Linked DNA regions of Homo sapiens: region 1 is linked to region 2. The links come from fine-mapping of genetic effects on gene expression. Tissue or cell type: neutrophils. Region 2 holds a variant in brackets; the other region holds the start of a gene. All regions are shown on one strand. Distances are between the middles of the regions.

Region 1 (2,500 bases), 230 kb before region 2:
CTCTCGCCTCGGCCTTCCAAAAGTGTATTGTATCTTGATGCTTTCAGTAGAATGGTTCACCTTATAACCTCTACATGGCAGGATGCATAATCACCAGTTTATTCTGTAATACCTGAGCAAAAATTCAGCCTAGCTAATATGGCCTCTTTCACCACACTGACAAGATAAGGATGACGTCCACTTAGTTGGCCACCACCAGTATCATAATATTAGATAGTAGTTTAAAAATATATAATGGAAACTAGCTGGTGACCACCACTTTACTTCCAGTTTTGAAATTGCTGACTCATCCTATTTAAGAATCTGTTGTAAGCATCATTTAAGAATTAGTTTGGTTTAGACATACTTTGAAGTCAACATAGTTTTTAATGCATGGAATTACATAAAGTCAAATGAACTATATACCCTTGCTACATGCGGTCTTAATAACACTTGAAAAAATTGGCTGGATTTTCATTTAAAAGCCACCTTGAATAATGATTTTATTTCAGTGAAATTCGCTCGTATTTTTTCCAAGTTCCTTCGACATTCTAGATACACTATCGCTTCTCTAAGAGATAACTGGCTGGCGCAGAGTTGGAACCAATACAGACCCAGGCCTGACTGCCAAGCACTGACCATTCCTGCAAATTTCTCTCCCAGAAGACGTGTGCAAGCAAAGAAGAGGGCGATAATTTGATTTTGCAAAGGTAGGGATAGACGCGCACGCACAGACATCTGCACCGGCCCACAATGAGTTTGGGACGGGAGCAGTTAGGAAGTGGGGAGCTGCGGTACCTTTTCTTGGCCTTCCTGAGCTTGACTGGGTGCAGAACTCAGCCCTCAGGGCTGCGGGACAGCGTCTTCTCAGAAACCCGCAGCTTGGCTGGGGCCGCCAGACGCGCGTCCCTCACCCTCCCAGCGGAGCGCGGGGTGCCCGGCCCGCCTTGCGCTAGCCAGCAGCCTGGAACGCCGTAAGAGCGCAGCGCAGTAGGGAGTCGCACGCCAGGGGCAAAGGGACCTGCGATCTGCGCTCCTCCGGAAGCGGGAGGATGGCTAGGAGAGCCTCAGAAGTGTCATTAAAGGAAAAACCAAAAATTGAAGTTGCGGCTAAGTTTTCCCCATGAGAAGGCGGGGCAGCTCGGCCAGTAGGATAGACCGGAGGGTAACGCTGGAGCTGGGAGGGGCCCTGGGCGTAGGCTTTCGGGGAAAATTCCATCGCCCTTTCAACCACCACCACTCCCCTCCCAAGGCAAAGAAGCCGAGCTCTGTACCTCCATCGAGTCCTGGCTGCAGGGTGGGGGGCGACAGCCACCGCAGCCGGGAGGGTGCGGCCACCCAGTTCCCTCCCGGGGGGCGCCGGACTTCGAAGGCAGTGAGCGAGTCAGCTGGGATTCCCCCGGGCGCCTGCCACCCGGAGTCCCAACCCCTGGCGAAAAGAAAAGTGAAAGAGAAAGAGCCGGGAGCATAGGCGAAGACAAACACCTCCCGCGGAGACTGGGGGTGGGGCGGGTGGCGGCGGCTCCTGGATGACTGACTGCCCCAGGTGTCACTGCTTCCCGGCCTGTTTCCGTCCCTGCCGGGGCCTGGGGCGCAGAACTTGCAGGGCAAGCGCAAGGACATCGAGGAGCCCCAGCCCCGCCCTGCAGGAACACCAGCCACCGGTCTCCTCCTCTACCTGCCGGGACACCTGCAGAGAAGGCACAAGGATAGCCGCATCCCAAGCGACGGGCACCATGTGGGAAGCTTCCGCAGCTGAACCTGGAGACCCGGGCTGGGCTGGCGCGCATCCAAGTCTTCCTGAGGAAAGGGAAAAGGATGTCGGATCTGGATGCTGGGCGGCTACTCTAGACCGGCCTCTTGGTCCCCGCACAGGCTGCAAGAAGGAAACTTTGAAGTCCAACTAGGGGAAATGTTGGAAGAAGACACCCGGGTGGCAGCTTTGTGCAAGACAGTTGGTACAGGGAGTGAACTTAGAGCAATGAGCCTCTCTGCGGATCACTTTTCCAGCCTATTGTGTAGTCCAGTGTAAAATATCACACATGGTCCCATTTGATGGAAGCGTGAGATGTTGTTCTTGTAGTATTTTTACATTGGAGGAAGGAACTGAGTTGAGGCTGAGTGATTTGCATGCCATAAAGGCAGTAGCAAAGATCTCACGCTTAGTTTTGAAAGTACTTTGCAGAATCTTGCACTCTTGTGAATCACTGAAAATCCCTCTTGTACGGTGCTTTCCAAATTTTCAGAGTCATGGTTCAGAGAAAATGATGTCTTCCTGGAGCGCAGTTTAATTTAGTTTAAAATTTAATTATGTTTTTAATTACATAAATATGATAAATATCAAATAGAAAAATAATAGAAATTATTCACTTTCCATGTACATAAAGTTCCGTATAATATAATTTCATATTTTTATGAAAAATTTGAGTTTATTTTCATTAACTCAATTTTTTGATATCAGTTTTATATTTGAAATAATTACTGATGGACTTTTTGATGAGAATTACATCAAACTCTAGAT
Region 2 (2,761 bases):
CTTGTGCATTGTAGGATATTTAGCAGCACCTTTTCTACCCACTGGATGCCACAAGCACACCCCCTCCTACCCCAAGTGGTGATATCTGAAAGTGAGTCCAGATATTTTTGCCAAAAGTCCCCTAAGGTAGCACAATCTCTTGGTTGAGAATCAGTGTTTAGGCCTACCATACAAATCAAGGAAGTCATATTTTGATACCAGAGATGTCCAGTTTGAGCCAGCTGAGCTCTTTGCTGTATACTTAATTAATTAATTAATACTTAAATGTAGATGCATTACAACTGAAGACTTAGGTAATGGACATTTTGAGCATTACTTCAGGAAGAAAATCCTTAATATTTAAAAAAGTCTCTGACTTTACATTCTTCATCTCCTTTGGCCTACCTGATGATTTTATAAATTTCTGGTCATCGGCTGGGCACGGTGGCTCATGCCTGTAATCCCAGCACTTTGGGAGGCCAAGGCGGGTGGATCACCTGAGGTCAGAAGTTCGTGGTGGCCAACGTGGTGAAACCCTGTCTCTACTAAAAATACAAAAATTAGCCAGTGCTACTTGGGAGGCTGAGGCAAGAATTGCTGGAACCCAGGAAGTGGAGGTTGCAGTGAGCCAAGATCGTGCCATTGCATTCCAGCCCGGGCGATAGAGCAAGACTCCATCTCAAAAAAAAAAAAAAAAAAAAAATTCTGGTCACATTTAGCTTCATTCCAAAAGCTACAACCTCTTGTGGTTCAACATTTTCTTTTTGAGAGGAATATTGGGCACTCATGTCTCTTTTAATGACTTGAATACAATTTTCTATCAACATGGACTTAAAAAAACTTTTCTTATTCATGTGAAGATAAAAATCATTAATGTATTTGAGTTTTCCTTTTAGTTGTTTTAAGTAATTTAGATGATCACATCCATTCTTCACAAGCTTCAATAATTTTTATGAGCTACACTTCTCTGAAAATCTGTGGTCCGAATGCATGTTTTACGTGACCTGGGTAGAAGTGGAAGCAAACCAATAATTGATCAATTTTCAGTGATTAAGCATTTTTAATTTCTTGATTATAACACCTAGAGATTGCAACAGAACTGGTGGAAAATGGAGTTTTGAAAAACTTGTCTCAGAGGTAGCCACTTTATCTTCCAGCATTAAAAAAAAAAAAAAAGCAAGCCAGTGATGCAACTTTGACAGCCA[A/C]TATATTTCTGGATCACCTTCATTATAGACCAACAATGTATTGCATCCATGCTGAGAAAGTTTTCAATAAGAAGCAACTGCCACTCTGCCAGAGGTTATGATATTTGGAAGTTCAGCAGTGTTGAAGAAGTGCAATGAGCTTAAATAAAAGCTAGATGCACATCAAAACACTAACATGTGAGCACCATTCTTGTTGCTTTCTGTCACTTGTATAAAAGGACAAATCTCTATTTTTCTGTTGGTGTTTGTAATTTCTAGAGATTTTTTGAACTTCCTCTGAACTAACTGGATCCCATTTACAGGATCTATTTGGCAGTTCATAACCATAAAGCAACTGTTGCAATCTCTCCAAGTTGGAAAAATATTTCCATTAAAAAAAACCCTTCAATCTCCAGTTGCAATTTGTAAAGCAATGGACAAATACTTAGTTCTAATAATTTTAAATCAACAGTTGCCTTTATAAGTGGATTTCTTTCACCCTTTTCTGTTTAAAACATATTTTTTCTTAATTTTAATCTTGTTTAAATTCTATTCAATATCTTATTTTAAATTATTGGTTTGGCATCTTTGAAAATATTTTGTTTTTCTTCAATGTAAAGTGTCACAGGATAATCTGCTTTCTATGTGTGTTTGAAAAGTTAGTAGTTGATTTTAGAAAAGGAACAGAATTTTTAAAATACAATATGAGTCTTTCCTGTTCAGATTTCCAGGCAGCTTCCAAGAAATGTTTATAGCTTCAATATTTTCACAGATAATGCCTGTGTTTTCAATGCCATCTACTCTCCTCCTACCTCTCCATATTCCTGCTCCTGACCATTTTACAAGACTAAAGCATAAAGTTAATATAAATTTATATGGCTGAAAATACCAAAATATTCCCTATAATAAAAATGTGTATAGCAACTGACCCATGTTCTATTAGAAAGTTAAATTCAATTTTTTAAATGTGTTTTAGTTTCTTTTGCTTTTATTTAAACGTGACATTATTTCTAATTTCAAACCTGTGGTAAATGCTACCTTGAGGTAGCTTTTAAAAGTGCACATTAATTAAAATTATATAGACAGGTATGTTGCCAAAGACATTCAACACTGGATCTGAGAGAAAAGGTTTCCAAATGCTGTACAAATTGCAAATGTAGTGTGCTGTAGAACGTGGGCAGCTGCAGGAGGAGGGCTGCCAGTGCACAGCAGATTCTGATGGCAGTGTGACGGACTTTAGCAGGAAGCTAAATCCAGTCTTGAAGGGCAGACAGATATTAGAGGACAAAATGTGGTATACAATCCAATTGTAGTATGCCCAGAGAATAAGAATGAGGATCATTCTCATTAGAGGGTCAGTAGGTAAGTTGACAGAAACAAGCCTGAAAGACCAAGTATCAGAGACAAATTAACAATCCAAGCATGATGCTCTGGAAAGATCACCTAAGTTTAATTCAATAGGCCTGGCTGCAAATTGGGCACCTCCATTTATAAGCTATAAGACCTTTGGTCAGACTTCAGATTCCTCACCAGCATAATAGTCTCTCATAGAAGTGCTGTGGAATGATACAAAATAACATGTAAACAATTCACACAAT

What was found. PIP is the estimated chance that this variant, and not a neighbour inherited with it, causes the effect.
Region 1: IL15 starts here. The variant in region 2 is fine-mapped to the expression of IL15 in neutrophils (BLUEPRINT, PIP 0.95).

The regions. Positions count from the first base shown.
Region 1 is chr4:141,635,502-141,638,001 of GRCh38, reverse strand. It overlaps IL15 (interleukin 15), which reads right to left and starts at 1,419. Exons shown (of 8, transcript NM_000585.5): 1 at 1,254-1,419. RefSeq lists an enhancer at 1,417-1,506.
Region 2 is chr4:141,403,620-141,406,380 of GRCh38, reverse strand. No RefSeq gene overlaps it. Among named protein-coding and RNA genes, the nearest start is that of LINC02432, 72 kb to the right of the region's middle. The variant A/C (reference allele first, on the strand shown) is at 1,185.